Regions from separate parts of the Homo sapiens genome. Here regions 1, 2, 3 and 4 are each reported to be linked to region 5. The links are microRNA targets in miRTarBase. Many come from high-throughput screens and were not tested one by one. Region 5 holds a microRNA gene; each other region holds the end of a gene's coding sequence. Distances are from middle to middle.

The links. Region 5 holds the annotated microRNA hsa-miR-6134 (UGAGGUGGUAGGAUGUAGA, at 2,120-2,138, shown strand). A microRNA usually pairs through its seed, bases 2 to 8, with sites in the 3' UTR of a target mRNA and lowers its output. Matches are read on the target gene's strand: a 7mer-m8 pairs with bases 2 to 8, a 7mer-A1 pairs with bases 2 to 7 and ends in A, and an 8mer does both.
Region 1: miRTarBase lists MSN as a target of hsa-miR-6134. Seed matches in the 3' UTR shown: 7mer-m8 at 2,109-2,115.
Region 2: the mRNA of SCAND3 is a reported target of hsa-miR-6134. Seed matches in the 3' UTR shown: 7mer-m8 at 2,747-2,753 and 7mer-A1 at 2,566-2,572.
Region 3: the mRNA of SHISA6 is a reported target of hsa-miR-6134. Seed matches in the 3' UTR shown: 8mer at 2,273-2,280.
Region 4: miRTarBase lists GPX7 as a target of hsa-miR-6134. Seed matches in the 3' UTR shown: 8mer at 687-694.

Annotation. Positions count from the first base shown.
Region 1 is chrX:65,739,133-65,743,251 of GRCh38, forward strand. MSN (moesin) reads left to right here. Exons shown (of 13, transcript NM_002444.3): 12 at 1-62; 13 at 597-2,799. The coding sequence ends at 761. Among named protein-coding and RNA genes, the nearest start is that of MSN, 74 kb to the left of the region's middle.
Region 2 is chr6:28,568,334-28,572,452 of GRCh38, forward strand. SCAND3 (SCAN domain containing 3) reads right to left here. Exons shown (of 4, transcript NM_052923.2): 4 at 2,202-4,119. The coding sequence ends at 3,578. Among named protein-coding and RNA genes, the nearest start is that of SCAND3, 17 kb to the right of the region's middle.
Region 3 is chr17:11,557,927-11,562,045 of GRCh38, reverse strand. It overlaps SHISA6 (shisa family member 6), which reads right to left. Exons shown (of 6, transcript NM_207386.4): 6 at 1-4,119. The coding sequence ends at 3,742. Among named protein-coding and RNA genes, the nearest start is that of DNAH9, 38 kb to the left of the region's middle.
Region 4 is chr1:52,607,760-52,611,878 of GRCh38, forward strand. GPX7 (glutathione peroxidase 7) reads left to right here. Exons shown (of 3, transcript NM_015696.5): 3 at 503-1,292. The coding sequence ends at 666. Among named protein-coding and RNA genes, the nearest start is that of GPX7, 7.4 kb to the left of the region's middle.
Region 5 is chrX:28,493,594-28,497,712 of GRCh38, reverse strand. MIR6134 (microRNA 6134) reads left to right here and starts at 2,050; the gene lies at 2,050-2,158.

The sequences.
Region 1 (4,119 bases), 37 Mb from region 5:
GCAGTGAGGAGGAACGTACCACTGAGGCAGAGAAGAATGAGCGTGTGCAGAAGCACCTGAAGGTATACAAGTAGGGCCAAGGGGCAAGGAAACTATATGCATTGATTTAGTAGCCCATGGCATTCCCTAGACCATCATGGGGGATAGGTATAAGATCCTGTCCCAGTGTTGTATGGGAGCCCAAGCCGTTCTTAAGTGACAGCTTTAAGGATAGGCACCTCTCACTTATTAATCAGACCTTGGGCTATCTCTTCCCTTTTTGAGATTTTCTCTCTGCCCCACCTCCCACTCACTCCATTCACCTCTTACATTAAGAAAATATCTAGCTGACAAAATTCCCACCTGAATCTTTTGTATGTTGTTCTACTCTTAAAGGATACCCATTATCAACTGGTCCCCTAAGTTTATTTATTTTTTTTTAATATTCTTGCCCCACTGCAGTTCTAACAGAGTTGGAAATGACTCTCAATATTTATATATAGAGAGAAAGGGTGAGGAAGAAAGAAGGAAACAGAAGAGAAGGGAAGTCTGGTCAAATAACAGGAGGTAAAATGAGAGAAAGCCATTGACCTCTGTGTTCCCATACATCCTCACAGGCCCTCACTTCGGAGCTGGCCAATGCCAGAGATGAGTCCAAGAAGACTGCCAATGACATGATCCATGCTGAGAACATGCGACTGGGCCGAGACAAATACAAGACCCTGCGCCAGATCCGGCAGGGCAACACCAAGCAGCGCATTGACGAATTTGAGTCTATGTAATGGGCACCCAGCCTCTAGGGACCCCTCCTCCCTTTTTCCTTGTCCCCACACTCCTACACCTAACTCACCTAACTCATACTGTGCTGGAGCCACTAACTAGAGCAGCCCTGGAGTCATGCCAAGCATTTAATGTAGCCATGGGACCAAACCTAGCCCCTTAGCCCCCACCCACTTCCCTGGGCAAATGAATGGCTCACTATGGTGCCAATGGAACCTCCTTTCTCTTCTCTGTTCCATTGAATCTGTATGGCTAGAATATCCTACTTCTCCAGCCTAGAGGTACTTTCCACTTGATTTTGCAAATGCCCTTACACTTACTGTTGTCCTATGGGAGTCAAGTGTGGAGTAGGTTGGAAGCTAGCTCCCCTCCTCTCCCCTACCACTGTCTTCTTCAGGGTCCTGAGATTTACACGGTTGGAGTGTTATGCGGTCTAGGGAATGAGACAGGACCTAGGATATCTTCTCCAGGATGTCAACTGACCTAAAATTTGCCCTCCCATCCCGTTTAGAGTTATTTAGGCTTTGTAACGATTGGGGGATAAAAAGATGTTCAGTCATTTTTGTTTCTACCTCCCAGATCGGATCTGTTGCAAACTCAGCCTCAATAAGCCTTGTCGTTGACTTTAGGGACTCAATTTCTCCCCAGGGTGGATGGGGGAAATGGTGCCTTCAAGACCTTCACCAAACATACTAGAAGGGCATTGGCCATTCTATTGTGGCAAGGCTGAGTAGAAGATCCTACCCCAATTCCTTGTAGGAGTATAGGCCGGTCTAAAGTGAGCTCTATGGGCAGATCTACCCCTTACTTATTATTCCAGATCTGCAGTCACTTCGTGGGATCTGCCCCTCCCTGCTTCAATACCCAAATCCTCTCCAGCTATAACAGTAGGGATGAGTACCCAAAAGCTCAGCCAGCCCCATCAGGACTCTTGTGAAAAGAGAGGATATGTTCACACCTAGCGTCAGTATTTTCCCTGCTAGGGGTTTTAGGTCTCTTCCCCTCTCAGAGCTACTTGGGCCATAGCTCCTGCTCCACAGCCATCCCAGCCTTGGCATCTAGAGCTTGATGCCAGTAGGCTCAACTAGGGAGTGAGTGCAAAAAGCTGAGTATGGTGAGAGAAGCCTGTGCCCTGATCCAAGTTTACTCAACCCTCTCAGGTGACCAAAATCCCCTTCTCATCACTCCCCTCCAAAGAGGTGACTGGGCCCTGCCTCTGTTTGACAAACCTCTAACCCAGGTCTTGACACCAGCTGTTCTGTCCCTTGGAGCTGTAAACCAGAGAGCTGCTGGGGATTCTGGCCTAGTCCCTTCCACACCCCCACCCCTTGCTCTCAACCCAGGAGCATCCACCTCCTTCTCTGTCTCATGTGTGCTCTTCTTCTTTCTACAGTATTATGTACTCTACTGATATCTAAATATTGATTTCTGCCTTCCTTGCTAATGCACCATTAGAAGATATTAGTCTTGGGGCAGGATGATTTTGGCCTCATTACTTTACCACCCCCACACCTGGAAAGCATATACTATATTACAAAATGACATTTTGCCAAAATTATTAATATAAGAAGCTTTCAGTATTAGTGATGTCATCTGTCACTATAGGTCATACAATCCATTCTTAAAGTACTTGTTATTTGTTTTTATTATTACTGTTTGTCTTCTCCCCAGGGTTCAGTCCTCAAGGGGCCATCCTGTCCCACCATGCAGTGCCCCTAGCTTAGAGCCTCCCTCAATTCCCCCTGGCCACCACCCCCCACTCTGTGCCTGACCTTGAGGAGTCTTGTGTGCATTGCTGTGAATTAGCTCACTTGGTGATATGTCCTATATTGGCTAAATTGAAACCTGGAATTGTGGGGCAATCTATTAATAGCTGCCTTAAAGTCAGTAACTTACCCTTAGGGAGGCTGGGGGAAAAGGTTAGATTTTGTATTCAGGGGTTTTTTGTGTACTTTTTGGGTTTTTTAAAAATTGTTTTTGGAGGGGTTTATGCTCAATCCATGTTCTATTTCAGTGCCAATAAAATTTAGGAAGACTTCACAGTGACTCAATCGTTCTTTGTGGTATGAGTGGGTAGCTGTAAGATATTTCACTGCAGTTTCTATTTATATATTACCTTCTTATCTTTGGTCTCATTTCATCTATACCTCAGTTCTATGGAGAGGGGTGATATGACTATCCCCATTTTATATAGGAGAGAATGGGCTCAAAAAAGTATAATAACTTCCCAAGGTCACAGGACTGTCTAACTTAATAGTCTGTGCCCTTTCGGTAGTTCCAGGCCAACTTTTCTACTGTGGGTGTGGATCCTGCATTGACCATGTGATGCTCCTGGACTTGCCTGGCATTGGGACCTAAGAGGTACTTATTTGTATCTCTTGATTTCTCTTGGGATGCTCAGGCCCTGTCCTGCCTCTTTGTCAGGAAGGTCTTCAGGCTTTTCCTGCCTCCTACTACCCTCACATATTGTAGTGCCAATAAAGGTCAGGGAAACTACCTTGGGCCCTGTTGCAGAAGGCAGTGGGGAATGGAGTGTGAAGTGAGGATGGAGAGTGTGTGTATGTACAAAAGCTATTGGGTAGTACTTTATAGTTTATAAAACATGTATAAAACATTTTGTAGCCTAGATATGGTTATCCTCATTTTGCAGATGAGGAAACTGAGGCCAGACAAACCTTCTAAACTGTCCTGGACCTGGCACTCTCACTTACCACTTTCCTTCCTGGTAAGCCAACACTTGCAAGGAAAAGTAAGTTATCATATATTTCCTTCCTTCCTTCCTTCCTTCCTTCCTTCCTTCCTTCCTTCCTTCCTTCCTTCCTTCCTTCCTTCCCTCCTTCCCTCCTTCCCTCCTTCCTCTCCCTTCCTTCCTTCCTTCCTTCCTTCCTTCCTTCCTTCCTTCCTTCCTTCCTTCCTTCCTTCCTTCCTTCCTTTCTTTCTCTCTCTCTCTCTGTCTCTCTCTCTCTCTTACTCTTTTTATGGAGTCTCTGTTGCCCACTCTGGAGTGGAGTGGTGCAATCCTGCCTCATTGCAACCTTTAAGCGATTCTCCTCCTGCCTCAGCCTCCGTAGGAGGTGGGACTACAGACACACACCATCATGCCTGGCTAATTTTTGTATTTTTAGTAGAGATGGGGTTTCACCATGTTGGCCAGGCTGGTCTTGAACTCCTGGCCTCAAGTGATCTGCCTGCCTCGGCCTCCCAAAGTGCTGGGATTACAGGTGGGAGCCCATGAGGCCTGGCCCAGTTATCGTATGTTTTGTGAGCTTTAAATCCTTAACAACAACCCTTTGAGGCAGTGGCTCAAAAACTTGTCTGCACATTAGAATCCTTTAAAGATTCCAAAGCCCAGACCATATC
Region 2 (4,119 bases), not on the chromosome of region 5:
TTCAATTTAACACACATATGTCAGAATACAAAGCACACAGTATGTTCTTTGAACCAGTAAATAAATGTCTTATTCTTTATCATAATAATTTCTAATTGTATAATGTTTGAAACTTTCACAATCTTTCTATCTTGGTGAACACTGGCAAAGACATTCTGGGAGTTATTCAGGAGAGATTCACTGCAGAAAGTACACAGCCATATATCAGAGAAGGGACACTTTCTAACAGGGATCCTTTTAGAACCTGACTCAAGATTCTTTTGTCTTTGAAATATCTAAGCAGCCAGCCAAACCAGAACAGCCAAACTCCAAAAGCCCAGAGTTTGACTGCACCACTGAGATCACTCAAGTAATCTCTACCCTCCTTTCTCTGCCATAAAAGCCCCACCCTGGGTTTCCCCTCACTTTGGTTCTTTCTCAAGTTTCTCACCAGCAGAGCTGAAGGAGAAGTGGTCTTTCATCCAGGTGGCTGGGGTAATATAGAGGAATCTGGGTATAAGGTTGCAAAGGCCATCAGGCCCCTTAGCTGCAATTCCCTCTTGTATCCTGCTTCCTCAAACCAGGGCTAGACCAAAGACTTCAAAATATGTGCACGCGCGCACACATACGGGTACCAAGGGTAAATTTGTAATTTGCCCTCTAAGCCCCAGAATTCAAGCTTTCTCATTCTTTCATGGGGACCATGTGAGAATTCTCCAAGATATTTGTGGGGGCCTTACCCACAAATATATAAATAGATAGATAATGGCTTTTACCTCCTTCATCTGTCCATAGCTATAAATGCCCACAGGCTTTGTTGGAGAGTTCTCCAGGCTGAAGGACAGTTTTCCTGAATGTGACACTAGCCGAGAGGTCAGAATTAATTACATTCCTTGGTGTCACCTGACCCACAGGAAACTTGCGTATCTTTGCCACCCCAAATTGTGAGACTACAGACTGAACTACTGCAAGTCTAATCGCCTCCCCTCCCCACCCCACCTTCCCTTTTATTTTCCTGATAAAGTAGGCAGAAAGCAGATGAACAAGTTTGCTGCCTAAATTAACACCCAATCTGGAAATAAAATACAAGTCTTTCCTTCCTGAAGGCATCTTCAATCACTACCAGTGATTCCTTTGGCAGAAAGCACAATTTTGGGAGCTAGTTCTACGACTTCTTAATCATCCTTCAAGTTAGGTCTGGGTGTGTGCATGGAGGCAGTGGGTGGTGGGGTTTTCTGATTCTAGTCATTGTCAGATTTCTTTAAAAAGTGAAGTACTTAGCGTTCCCTTGACCCATCTTTGACTCCTCCCTAGTTGCTGTTCTTTGAGTAATAGGAAAAGCCCAACACAACCTCCTGTTATACATAAATACAATTTTTTAAAACCAGCACATATATACATGATAGATGGAAATAAACAGTACTGCATACAGTAGTTGTAAGTATACACAAATAAAGATACCTTTGCATTGTATTCATATACCACGTTTATAGACATGTGAACTTGCTGCAAAACAAGCAGAAAATAGGAAGAGAAAATCAGGTTATCTACAGAATCACTAGTCATCAAATTCACGTTAAGAATAGGCAGTAAGATTTCATGATCTCAATAAAAATCTCAATAAAGCTGTTGCCCTAAAAAAATTTACAGTGAGACAATAAAACAGGGAGGTAAGGGAGGAAAGACAAATATTCCTATGTCTTAAAAAAAAGGTAAAGCAAGTTAGCCTCCTGGCACTGAATCATTTGCAGAAAAAAATAAAAATAGTTGTTCAAGTATATGAGAAGGCTTTGTACCAATCTCAGACATCCAATACTTTATATTTCTTAGAGAGAAAGTGAAGGCTTTGTACCAATCTCAAACATCTAATACTTTATATTTCTTAGAGAGAAAGTAAGGGAATTTAGTTCTCTTTTAATATGTACTCTTAATTCCCTCTTAATTTCTTCCAGACTACTTTAAGTTTTTATAGAAATAAATATAAAATCACCACATTGCCTTTTGAAATTAAAAATGGGAAACACAATACTTTATTCAATCAATAAAACAAACTGTAAAACATTTTAAAATCCCTTAGTTCTAGAATATGGTCAGATAAGAAAGAGGGCATATAATTTGTCAGTGGGAGAAATTAAACCACTGTCTTCTAAATCTATCCACCATGATAAGGTTTTTTGTTTTTGAAAAGCTGTAAGATTAAAACAAACACACAATAAAACATAATCCAATTAAGGTTTCAGGACTAAATATGAACCTTTCCTCTACTTTCAAAGGTTTGGAGGATCCTTGAAACTTCCATTACCAAAAGGTTAAATTATTAGTAACATTCTGAATCACTAAATAGCCTTCCTTTCCTTAACTTTGAATATCACATTTATTTGAAACGAAGCACTTACTGTAAATTGCTACCCTGTCTAGGAAAAGATATTTTCTTCATGGATTCTGTCATGTTTTGATGCTAAAGAACCTGTTTTATCGGACTAATTTGCTTTCGATTATTCTAAATGAGTTCACAGACACAAGAGCAGATATTTGTGGCATTTTTCTGAATCATCTCCAAACAAAATAGAGGTTGTTAAATCTAATTGAGGTGCCAATAATTTCTGACTTTGTCCCAGAGCACCTTAAAGGCAATCAGTTCTAGCAAAATCTAGAAACCACCTAACATAAACTTGTCAGTATGGCCCAATCGCCCATCCTTATGAAATCAGAATTTATCGGCCGGGCGCAGCAGGTCACGCCTGTAATCCCAGCACTTTGAGAGGCCGAGGTGGGAGGGTCATCTGATGTCAGGAGTTCAAGATGAGCCTGGCCAACATGGTGAAACCCCATCTCTACTATAAATACAAAAATTAGCCAGGCATGGTGGTGGGTGCCTGTAATCTCAGTTACTCGGAAGACTGAGGCAAGAGAATCACTTGAACCCAGGAGGTACAGGTTGCAGTGAGCAGAGATTGCACCAATGCACTCCAGCCTGGGCAACAGAGCAAGACCCTGCCTCAAAAATAAATAAGTAAATAAATTTATCAATATGAATCCAAGGCCATAACACCATTACAAAATAAGTGTTCCCTTCCATCTTTGTCTAAACATGCACCTACAAAACAAACAACATCAACTTCCAACCTAACCACTCTGGATCAGTTTAACAAACTTCATACCCTACTGACCTGTCCCCTGCATTTGAATTCTAAGCCTACCCCTTTGAATTCACTTCCTTTCACTGACCTTGTCTATTTCAAAGAAACCATCTCCCATCCTGAAGTTGTCCTACAATCTTAACATGCTAATGAAATACAAGAAGAAGACACAAAATATAAGATCAAATGTTTTAATATTAGAATCAACAGATTTAAAATTATATTTTAATAAATACGACAAATATGAGGAAAAATAGAATTATAAAAACTGTACACATTCTTAATTGAAAATATACATATAGGCAATTTATATAGAAAATTGCTGTTTCACTCATAACTTCTCATACTTCCATAACTGTAACTAGACAGAAAGTTTAAAGTGAAATAGCAAATTCCTCACACTCAATGCTTATATGCATACTTTGAACCAATACCTTACATATCAATATTTAAAGCTTTTAATGTGATAAGTGAGCTTGCTTCTTGCTTGTTAATTTGTCTAATCTAGGTTGGATTGATGACAATGCTACCCTCAGGGGATAATGTATATTTAAACTGTTTCTATGTTTTGTTTTAATAACACTTAAAGTAGAGAATCCGGTCTCACAGAGGTATGTTGAGGGGAAAAGAAGCAGCAATTTTAAAGCAATCTCAGCAAGCTCAGGATAGTCATTTTTAGCTTTTATCCAAAATGAAGGAAGTGATGCTGTATTTTCAAAACTGATTTTCAATCCTTCGTCGGTAGCCAGCTTCAACAACTTATCCTGTAGAGTTACAGTTAAATTTAAGTTATCTTTTGATGAAAGAAATGGATTTTGGATCCACAAATTTCCTATGCGTGGATCTTCTTTTGATGGAAAATAAAATTCAAAACATTCTAACAAATTTGTAAGATGTTCACTGATAACTTTTCGCAGATGTGCAATATCAAGATCATTACCTACTTCATTGATAATTGTTGTTAAATTATGAAACATGTCATAACAATCTGTAGAAATTC
Region 3 (4,119 bases), not on the chromosome of region 5:
GGAGCTTCTGGGCTAACATCAGGCTGGGTTGGGAGCTTCAGGGGACTTGCTAGTGGCAGGAACCAAACTGACTATCACAGGCCATGACATCTCAAACCCAGAGCTCCATTCCCTTCCCTCCCAGAGCTCAGAGGGGAAAAGCCCTTGGCTCCGTGCACTGGGGTATCAACTCACAGGGGCAGGAGATGAAGGATACACCAGTGAGGCAAACAGAAGACCGAAAGAATGTCTTATTCTTCCATTGTTTTCATTGAGAGCTCTGATTTTTAGAGCTGGAGATTATAGCAAGACCAGGGAAAAGAAATTAGGAATGGAGGAAGGTGAATGGAGGAAGGTAGATGGAGGAAGAGGGAGATGAGAGGAAGGAATGAGTGACCTGGCCTGGAAATCTGAGGTTTTCTGGAAATCAGGAGTTTCTGGGAGGGAGAGTGGAAAGAGGGGAGGAGAAATTTGAATTGGGGGCAAGGTTGGAACTTTCTAAGAGGCAGTCGTGTGGCCCAAGACACTCCCAAGACACTGGGGGAGCCCTGAGGGCAGAAGCCTGGTTAGGAGGTGAAGTAATTCTTGGCAAAGCCTTTTTGACACAGGAAGGCATGGAGCCAGGAGCCTGGAGCAAGACAGGGAAGGTGGAGATGCAGGAGGGATTGTGAAAGCTTCAATGCCATCAGAGGCCAAGGAAACCAGGCAGAACTTTCAGGGCAGGAGAGAACCTGTGCAGATTCCAGTTCATTTCTGTTAGAGCAACAGAGATGTGCAAAAATGAATAAAACAAGGAGAGGGAAATCTTGGGCTTTAGGCTTCCTTTGTGAGCAGGAGGGAGGCTTTTACTGTAAGGGTGGATGGTACTTCTATGTATGGTAGAGGCCACCAGCCTGGTTGGGCTAGAAATCATGGCATCTAGGTTCCAGCCCCAGAAGCCTCTTTTATCTGCTACGTGAACTTGCCTATTGATGTGGCTTTGCTTGTTCCATGAAGATGGATGGGACAGCTGAATAAATGGGATACCTCTCTGTCCCAGCTATGACATAGTTTTCTGGATTTTGAAATGTGGGACTGAATTGGAGCAAGTCTGTAGACCTATCTCTACTTCTTTTTTCTTCCCTCCTCCCCTCCCTCCCTCCCTCTCTCCCTCCCTTCATTCCTTGCTTCTAGACCCAAAGGTGAAGCAGAAGAAATCCTTGAAAAGAAGTAAGCATTGCAGTAGAATTTTCCAACCCAACTGACATCAGAGCCTTTCAGCCAGACAGTGGTAAGGCTGGGATGAGAAATGTCTTGGAATCAACTCATCAACAACCCCTGAGAGAGACAGAAACCCTGTCAGAGACAGGGCTTGGGGAGGACCCCTGGGGAAAAGTGTCACCCTGGGGGCTGGAGAACTTGGTGCTGAGAAGCTTTGACACTGGAGATGGGATCAGCTTTCTGGTTTGGTGTATACCTGCATGTAGACACCTGGGAAGGGCATTCTCAGCCACTCAGGTCCTTTCCCCTCACCACCAGCATCCTGCCTTCCAAGGGATGGCCACAGATTAGACGATTCAAAGGTGCTGGGCTCAGGGGCCCAGCTGGGAGCCACCTGCTCTATTCAGACTCACTTCTTCCTTTCCAACCCTCTTAGCCTCACCTTCTGGAACAAACTCTTATAAACCCCTGGGGACCAGCCCTTAAGAAGGTTTATGTGTCTGTTGGGAGGAAAGCAGAGAGGGTAGTCCCTGGCCTTCCAGCCGCACGACTCCAGGAATGCATCCCCAGTGTGGGGTCTGACAGTGGCTTTCACAACCCCCAGCCTCCATCCCCCTAAGATCCAGGGTGATGGTTTCCTGTTCCTGTTGGGAGGCACACCCTGCAGAGGGGAGAAGGAGATGAGAGCTTTGGAACTCTTGAAATCAGTGAAAGGACACAGTCCATTGCTTTCTCTGTGGTTTGTGGACTTGGTTAGATTAAAAATCTCCAGGGCTGACACCAATAAATTCTCCTTCTACACTCGCCTTTTTAAAGGGCCATGAGTGCAGAACTGAGGGCAGGTAAAACCCCATTTATAAGGGCACTGCTGTTGGATCTGACTGTTTTTAGGATCACACCTTCACCCAATAGCCTGGAGTTGATTCCCCCAGCCCCAACCCAGCGGGTGCCCTGGCCCTGAGAATGAGGGAACCCCTTCTTTCCCCCACCAGGCTCTCTGGTCTTGGGGGAGCGGATGCTGCTGAATTCACTGTCACCTCCCCAGGAGGCCGTCACACCATGCCAACCCCCAGGCTGGAGGCGGGGAAGAGGCTGAGGTGGGCGGGCAGTGGCGGTCCCCCAACAGAGCTGAGGACCATGGTCTACCAGGTACCCCAGTGCCTGCACAAAGGGATGATGCTGTGGGGACCTGCCCAGTTAGCCCCTAGGCCAGTCGCCTGGAGGACCTTTGTTTGCTTTTGCTAATAGGTCTTTGTCCCTTTGATCCAGAGGAGGCACGGATCTGAAGGATCAGCTAGGAGGAATAAAGTTGCAGGGAGGATGTGGGGGAAGGGGACACAGGCAGTAGGAGTGATCTCTGAACTGAGCAGGTAGACAGAGATGGGGAAGGAAGGATGAGCGGAGAGGATGCAGGACAACCACCTCTCATCCTCCTTGTCTGGGGGCTGAAAAGCTGCTCTCTAGAAACTTCTGTCTAGGTCCTGCCGGAGGTGCATGTGGGAACAGGTGGAGCCCTGCAGGATGCGAATGTTGAGCCCGAGACCCCGCACATCACAGTGGCCCTCCCCACCCTGGCTCTCTGGCCACCGCAGGTGCCTCCTGGGAGCAGAGCAGGGGTGGAGAAGGCAGCCTGAGTGGCAGTCATGGTCAGGTCTAGAGGCCTGGAGGGAGTGCGGAGATGATCGGGTGTCTGGGAGGGCCAGCACCCCATTGCTACTCCCCTCTGCGAAGGCTACAGCCAAAACCCCAGAAAACTCAAGGGTGAAATCCTCAGGGCCAGGGAAGGAGCACAGCCCGCTGAAAGGACAGGCCCAGGGTCCTTATGGGCGGGCAGTCAGCTGGAAGGGGGTGGAGTTCCCACCAATGGGGAGGCAGCTGAAGGAAGGGAACCCCTCCTGGTCCTGGAGTTGAGGGGAGGGGCACAGGGCCAGGGTTGGGCCCTCAGGGGTCAGCAAAGGAAGGGTCACTCAGTGGGGACCAGAGAGTTCCAGCAGGCAAGAAAAGAATCATTATTGTGCTTATGGACACAGCAGCTCCCTGGCTCTGAGAGAGCGAGCAGGCAGTTTTTAGGCACTAGGAGATTTCTGTGATGCGGTTCTAGATGAATGAATGAGACCGAGTAGCCTATCCGGTCAGCCCACTGATTGGACCCGCTGGCCCCTTCAAACCCAGGCAGCTTCAGACCACAGTCAAGCAAGGGTCTCTCTGCTGACAGAACCTGCAGCTGAGTCCCCCGGATGGGGAGAAGGAGGCGCGGGACGGAAAGGGAGTTGGTGAAGGTGGTCGGGGGTGAGAATGGGGCCTAGCCCCCTCCTCACTCCCCACTGATTCTTCTGGAGGAGCAAGAGCGATTGCTCTTGGTCCTGGGTCTAAGTGTATTGGACCAGGCCATCGGGGCTGTGTCCCCGGGGGTATGGCTTTTTGGGCAAAGGTGGCCCACCCCCACTTCCTACAGAGGGGACAAGGGAAGGGAGAGTGGCAAGGCTAGAAGCTCTGCTCCTGGCCCCTCCCGGCCCCCGCTCTGCTCTGCCACGCCCAGCAGCCCCGGCCCTGCCCCGCCGGTCACACGGTCACTTCGGTCTTGCTGGCTGTGTAGCAGGTGTGGTGGCCCGGGATGTAGTGCAGCTGCTCCACCGTGTTGTGTCTGCGTGAGGCAAAGGCATGACGCTTGGCTGCCGTCTGGCTCTGGCCCAGGGTGGCGTATGAGTTATTGGAGGCACTGGGATGAGAGTGCATCTTGCTCATGCGGTAGCGGTCCAGCACGGGTGTGGACACAAAGACGTCCGTGTGCGAGATGGCCCTGGACAGCGACTGCTCGGGAAAGGCCGTCCGCTCCGGGGACAGCAGCGGGTCCTGGGAGTGCAGGCGCTCCGTGGAGAGCAGCTGCTCGTCGGACAGGATGCGGTCGTAGGGCATGCTGAACTCATCTGGCAGGCCCCG
Region 4 (4,119 bases), not on the chromosome of region 5:
CCAGTTCTCACAGTTATAGATCAAACCCGGCCTTGCTTTTAGAAGCACCTGGGGAGCTCTTAAAAATGCACAAGGCTGAGACCTACTGAAGCAGGGCCCAAGAATCTTTATTTTAAGCACTCCCCTGACCCCCAGTGATTCTGATGAAACCAGTCCATGGACTAACATTTGGAAACCATTAAAACTGAACTAGAGAATAGGGTGTAGACTATTCAGTAGTTCGAAGTCATTAATAAAGGAGGATTTGATACCACTTTATCAAGCACGTCACAGAATCCTACAGCAGTCGTTCTCAACCTCGGCCCCACTTTGGAATCTCCCAGGGGGCTTTTGAAAAATGCTGATGCCTGAGCCTCACCCTCAGAGATTCTGGTTGGAGTGGTCTGGGGTGTGGACTGGGCATCAGGATTAGCTGCCACCAGGGAAAGATGGACACTGAGAGTGAAGTCCCAGGAGAGGGTACGCAGGGTAGCACGCTTTGCTCTCCTTCCTTTTTCTCTAGAGACTTCTGGGAAGGAGCCCACCTGGAACTTCTGGAAGTACCTAGTAGCCCCAGATGGAAAGGTGGTAGGGGCTTGGGACCCAACTGTGTCAGTGGAGGAGGTCAGACCCCAGATCACAGCGCTCGTGAGGAAGCTCATCCTACTGAAGCGAGAAGACTTATAACCACCGCGTCTCCTCCTCCACCACCTCATCCCGCCCACCTGTGTGGGGCTGACCAATGCAAACTCAAATGGTGCTTCAAAGGGAGAGACCCACTGACTCTCCTTCCTTTACTCTTATGCCATTGGTCCCATCATTCTTGTGGGGGAAAAATTCTAGTATTTTGATTATTTGAATCTTACAGCAACAAATAGGAACTCCTGGCCAATGAGAGCTCTTGACCAGTGAATCACCAGCCGATACGAACGTCTTGCCAACAAAAATGTGTGGCAAATAGAAGTATATCAAGCAATAATCTCCCACCCAAGGCTTCTGTAAACTGGGACCAATGATTACCTCATAGGGCTGTTGTGAGGATTAGGATGAAATACCTGTGAAAGTGCCTAGGCAGTGCCAGCCAAATAGGAGGCATTCAATGAACATTTTTTGCATATAAACCAAAAAATAACTTGTTATCAATAAAAACTTGCATCCAACATGAATTTCCAGCCGATGATAATCCAGGCCAAAGGTTTAGTTGTTGTTATTTCCTCTGTATTATTTTCTTCATTACAAAAGAAATGCAAGTTCATTGTAACAATCCAAACAATACCTCACGATATAAAATAAAAATGAAAGTATCCTCCTCATTTTCCATAGTCTCCCTCCCTAGAGGTAAACAGTGTTAGCAGTTTGGTACAAAGGCTGCCAGGCCTTTGGTTAAGCCAATCATTATTGCCCAATAAGAACTCAGTGACCGGGCACGGTAGCTCACGCCTGTCATCCCAGCACTTTGGGAGGCCAACGTAGGTGGATCACCTGAGGTCAAGAGTTTGAGACCAGCCTGGCCAACATGGTGAAAACCCATCTCTACTAAAAATACAAAAATTAGGCTGGGCGCGGTGGCTCACGCTTGTAATCCCAGCACTTTGGGAGGCCAAGGCGGGCGGATCACGAGGTCAGGAGATCGAGACCAACCTCGCTAATACGGTGAAACCCCGTCTCTACTAAAAATACAAAAAATTAGCCGGGCGTGGTGGCGGGCGCTTGTAGTCCCAGCTACTCTGGAGGCTGAGGCAGGAGAATGGTGTGAACCCGGGAGGCGGAGCTTGCAGTGAGCAGAGATCGTGCCACTGCACTCCAGCCTGTGCACTCTAGCCTGGGCGACAGAGCAAGACTCCGTCTCAATAATAATAATAATAATAAAAATAAAAAAATAAAAATACAAAAATTAGCCTGGCATGACCGGGCACAGTGGCTCATGCCTGTAATCCCAGCACTTTGGGAGGCTGAGGCGGGTGGATCACCTGAGGTCAGGAGTTTGAGACCAGCCTGGCCAACATGGTGAAACCCCGTCTCTACAAAAATATAAAAATTAGTCGGGCATGATGGCAGGTGCCTGTAATCCCAGCTACTCTGGAGGCTGAGGCAGGAGAATCGCTTGAATCCGGGAGGCAGAGGTTGCTGTGAGCGGAGATAACGCCACTGCATTCTAGCCTGGGCAGCAGAGAGAGACTCTGTCTCAAAAAAAAAAAAAATTCACTGAGTAATCCACTAGCCAAAAGTACACCTCAATAACAAATAGGCAAAGGAGATGAATAGATAGTTCACGGAAGACTATAGATGCGTAATAAGGATACAAAAAGATGTCCAGCCTCATTGAAGTTGGAAAGTTTTTTGTTTGTTTGTTTTGTTTTTGTGATGGAGTCTAGCTCTGTCACCCAGGCTGGAGTGCAGTGGCACAGTCTCGGCTCACTGCAAGCTCTGCCTCCCAAGTTCACGCCATTCTGCCTCAGCCTCCCGAGTAGCTGGGACTACAGGCGCCCACCACCACGCTCAGCTAATTTTTTTTTTTTTGTATTTTTAGTAGAGGCGGGGTTTCATCATGTTAGCCAGGATGGTCTCAATCTCCTGACCCAGTGATCCGCCCGCCTCGGCCTCCCAAAGTGCTGGGATTACAGGCGTGAGCCACTATTCCCGGCCGAAAGATATTTTTTTAATGATAATACCCCTGGTTGGCAGGGATGTGAGGAAATGGGCATTCACATAAACTGTGGTACGATAAACTGGCACAAGTGTTTGGAGGGTGATTTGGCAATATCTTTTAAAACAAAATGCTCATACCTTTTGTTTTTGCTTTTTGTTTTGAGACAGGGTCACACTCTGTTGCCCAGGCTGAAGAAGAGTGGCTCGATCGTAGCTTACTGCATCCTTAGCCTCCTGAGTAACTAGGACTGCAGGCACACGCCACCATGCAACATAGTGGGACCCCACCTCTACAAAAAAATATTAGCTGGCCATGGCAGTGCATGCCTGTAGTCCCAGCTATCAGGAGGCTGAGGTGAGAGAATTGCTAGAGCCTGGGAGGTCAAGGCTGCAGCGAACCGTAACCATGCCACTGCACTCAGCCTGGGTGACAGAGGAGACCTTGCCTCAAATTATAAACTAATATGGTTATTAAAATGAATGAATGAAGTCTCCATATGCTACCATAGAAAGTTGTCCAAAAGTGAAAAAATGATAAGTTGTAAAACAGAATGAACACATTCACATACCCAGAAAAACCAGTATGAACAAGTGTAATGTTTTTATTAAAAATGTACAATGTTGCTGGGTGCATTAGGTGGCTCACGCCTGTAATCCCAGCACTTTGGGAGGCAGAGGTGGGAGGATTGCTTGAGCCCAGGAGTTCAAGACCAGTCTGGGCAACATGGCAAGACCGTGTCTCTGCAAAAAAATTTAAAAATTAGCCAGGCGTGGTCACTCACACCTGTAGTCCCAGCTACTCAGGAGGCTGAGGCAGGAGGATTGTTTGAGCCCAGGAGGTTGAGGCTGCAGTGAGCCGTGTTTGCGCCACTGTACTCCAGCCTGGGCAATGGGAGTGGACCCTGTCCCAAATTTTTAAAAAATTTACAATGTTAAGTGGGAGGGAAAGAGAGAGGGAAAAATATAGACCAAACTCTTAATGGTGGTTGTCTGCGAGGGGCTGAGGTAGGATAACAGGAGTCATTTTCATTAAGTTTCTGTAATGTTTGAATTTTGTATGTCAAATCCATATTTCACCTTTATATAAATGTGGAAAGGTGGCTAAAAATTGGGGTGCAGCCTGGGAAACACAGTGAGACTTCATCTCTACAAAAAATCAAAAAATTAGCCAGGTGTGATGGTGCACACCTATAGTCCCAGCTACTCAGGAGGCTGAGTGAGGAGAGTCACTGGAGCCTGGGAGTTTGAGGCTGCAGTGAGCTATGATCACGCCACTGCACTCCAACCTGAGCAACAGACCAAAATACTATAAAAAAAATGGGGTGATGGGCAGAGTCACTGGTAGATAATTCATTGGCCAATAAGAATTTCAGGTGTACTTTATCTAAGGTCACTCTTCTAGAAGTCTGGAGACTCAGATTCAAGTTCCTGTTGTGCCCCTGACTCACAGCAAATTCTTCCCTCTCTCCTGTCCTCCGTTTTCTCACTGGA
Region 5 (4,119 bases):
GGTTCCATGCTCTATTATTTCTGTGGATTTACAAGATGCTTCCATTTATCTGTGGGAATGGTTTTGAAACTTCCAACTGTAATGTGTAGTGATTGTCTTTTTTTTTTTTTTTTTTTTTTAAGACGGAGTCTCACTCTGTAGCCCAGGCTGGAGTGCAGTGGCATGATCTGGGCTCAACTGCAACCTCTGCCTCCTGGGTTCAAGCAATTCTCCTGCCTCAGCCTCCCAAGTAGCTGGTATGACAGGCACCCGCCACCATGCCCTGCTAATTTTTGTATTTTTAGTTGAGATGGGGTTTCACCTTGTTGCCCAGGCTGGTCTTGAACTTCTGATCTCAAGTGATCTGCCCACCACGGCCTCCCAGAGTGCTGAGGTTACAGGCATGAGCCACTGCGCCTGGCCGGGATTGTCTGTTTTGATTTTATTTAATTAATTAGTTAATTAATTAATTTATATTTATTTATTTATTTTTGAGACATAGTCTCACTCTGTCGCCGGGGCTGGAGTGCAGTGGTGTGATCTCGGCTCACTGCAACCTCTGCCTCCCGGGTTCAAGCGATTCTCCTGCCTCAGCCTCCCGAGTAGCTGGGATTACAGGCATGTGCCACCATGCCCAGCTAATTTTTCGTATTTTTAGTAGAGGCGGGTTTTCACCATGTTGGCCAGGCTGGTCTCGAACTCCCGACCTAGTGATTCGCCCGCCTTGGGCTCCCAAAGTGTTGGGATTACAGGCGTGAGCCACCGCGCTGGCCTTGTTTTTATTTTTAACGGACGTTTTTGTAAACATTTATAGTTTTAGTAATATATATTTTTATCCATGTATTATTTTGAAGTTAGTTACATGATGCCACTTTCTCAGTTCTTTCTAGCAAAAATTTATTTATTTAACTATCTGATTGGACTGTTAATGGTTCTCTTTCCTTTTTCTTTCCTAATTCATAGAATCAGAGCTATTTTTAGACGATTGTATACTTAAAAAAATTCTACCATAATCAGCTCTTAGAAGCATTAAAATGTTTGGAAGATATGGGGGAAAACAAGAAATACTTTGATATTCTTAGGGGATTTTCCAGGGAAAATATGAGTAGCACTGACCTTTTATATCAAAATTTACCCACTCGAATGGGCACTTCACTGTCAACTTAAATTTTAAGAGGACCTAAAAAGGTTGTCTAGAATATAAATTAATTCAAATGTTGCAAGTTGACATATCACTTGAATTTCATATGATACATATTTTCCTAGATCTTTGGATATAGCACTAAGCATAGGAAAATGCTGAAAGGGGTGGACTACCTAGGGACCTTGGGACTTGAAGAATAAAACGGTGATGTGTTATCTGCGTTTCCTTAATATAGCCCATATATCCCAGACAGGGCTCTTCAGAAGCATCTAACCCGGAACTGCCAATAGCCATGGATAAAAGAAAACTCCAAAAAAAGTACTTTCTTCCCTAGCTAATTGACCAGAAATGGGGTGTCCCAACAATAAAAAAAACCTTTTTGGCAATACATACACCCTCAGCCAAACATCAATAGAAAAAAATGCCCCTGCTTTTGGGATTTCAGTGAAACTTAGTGGGGAGTTGATTTTCACACCACTACCCTACTCTATGAAAGCAGGTGGTGGGACTCGAATTTCTTCCTTCCTTTTCCTAGGGTGGGGCTGAGCACGGACCTAATTTTCTAAATGTGGAGCTAATCTTCCCACTGCTGCCTGGTGGAAGCAGACAGCACTTTTGTCAGCAAGTTAATGGGGCAGTTGAAATTCTGCTTCCATTCAGCAGAACCAGGAAGTGCTCCAATTCCTCTGCCAAGATAGTGTTAGCAGGACTGAGCAGGGACCTGGTCTTTTTGCCTCTCCCTGGCTGTCTCAGGCAGTATTCTGATTCCCCAGCCAGTGTAGTGGCCGTGGGGTCCAGCAGGCAGCTGAGCCTCCTCTGTACCCAGGATTAGTGAGACTTAGGAAGGCAGTACAAATTTGGGTCACCAAGCATTTCATTGATGCCAGGCATTGATGCCAGGTGGGAGTTGAACCTCAGCTCCCCACTGGGCCTTGATGTCAGTAGGGCTCAGTAGGGAACTGACCCTCTATTTCCACCTGCATAAATGAAGCTGAATGAGGTGGTAGGATGTAGAGCTGGTTGACACTCTGCTTTCTCAAACCCTGTGCTTCCCTGGTATTAATGGGGTTTAGCAGACAGTGAGCTTCTGCCCCCATCTGTAGTAACAAAGAGGTATGCATCAGTCCTCTCCTTACCCCTTGCTGGTGTCAGAGTGTCCAGTGGGAAGTCGAGCTTATACTCCTACTCAGAGGCAATGAAGCAATGTGACTCAGTGTCCTACTTTCATCAAGATGGTGTTAACAGGGCCAAAGGTGTGGCTAAACCTCTACCCCACTTATCTGTAGTGAGGCAATGTGAGTCACTGCCCCACTTTTGTCATGATAGTGTTGGTGGGGTTCAGTTGGAAACAGAATATGCATGGCAAACTGCCTTCATGCTACACTTGAACAGGCAATTGTCTGCTAAAAAGAGGAGATGAAATAGGATCCATAGTCTCATAATGTAATATCTAAAATGTCTAGACTATAATGGAAAAATCACTTGCTATACGAACAATCAGAAAAATCACAGCATGAATAAAAAGAACCAACGAACTGATAAAACACCAAGGTGGTTGAAAGCAAGGTGAATCAGATCTTCGCATTATCTGATAAGGTTTTTAAAGCAGCCATCATCAAAATGTGTCAACAAGCAATTACATATACTCTTGAAACAAAGGAAAAAAATAGAAAACCTCAGCAAAGAAATAGAAATTATAAAAAAGAACAAAATGGAAATCATAGAACTGAAAAGTGTAGTAATTAAAATAAATTCAATAGGTGGGCTCAAGAGTACATTGGAGATCACAAGAAGATAGAATCAGTGAACTTAAGTACAGATTATTGGAATGCACTCAGTTTGAAATTTATCTCAACTCAGGGGAGAAAAGAGACCTGGCAGAAAATGAACAAAGTATCAGGGAACTTTAGGACAATAACAACTCAGGGGAGAGAAGAGACCGGGCAGAAAATAAACAAAGTATCAGGGAACTTTTAGGACAATAACAAAGATCTAACATTTGTATCATCAGAGTCTGAGAAGAACAAAAACATTTAAAGAAATAATGGTTGAAAACTCTCCAAATTTAGTGAAAGCCATATCCTATAGATTCAAAAAGCTGAGGAAACTCCAAGTAGGATAAACCTAAAAAAATGTATGCAAAGACACAACAAAATTAAACTTGTGAGAACTAAACAAAAAGAAAAGAATTAAAAGCAGACAGACAGAAACAACATATTGCATATAGAGGAATACCACCTTGAATTGCAGTAAATTTCCCACCCTAAAACTATGCAATTTAGAAGGCGTGGTGCAAGATTTTTCAAGTACTGAAAGGAAGTAAATATCAACCCAGAATTCTGCATCCAGCAAAAATATTCTTCAGGAATAAACGGGAAATAAAGACATTCTCAGGTGAAGGAAACCTACAAGAAGGAAACTTATGATACTTTGTTGCAAGTAAAAGCACCCTTAATGAAAGGCTAAAGGAAGTTCTCTAAACAGAAAGGAAATGATAACAAATGAAGGCTTGGAACTTCAAAAAGGAAAGAAAAGCATCAGAATGAGTAAGAATGGGGTAATATATTGAAGACTAGTCTTCTCATGAGTTTCATACACTATATTTGATGTTTGAAGCAAAAATTATGACATCATTAGATGTGATGCTCAATGTATCTAGAGTAAATAATTAAGATCATTATATTTAAAATTTAGGAAAGGTAAAAGGACCTAAATGGTAGTAAGATTTCTACACTTCACTCAAAGTGATAAACCATTAATAGAAGTGATAGCTTACTTACATGCATTGTAACACCTAGAGCAACCACTAAGAAAACAATATAAGATGATATGTTCAAAAGATACTGATATAATTTAGCTTTGTCCCCGCCCAAATCTCATCTTGAATTGTATCTGTCATAATTCCCATTTTTGTGGGAGGGACCTGGTGGGAGATAATTGAATCATGGCAGCGGTTTCCCCCATACTGTTCTTGTGGTAGTGAATAAGTCTCAAGA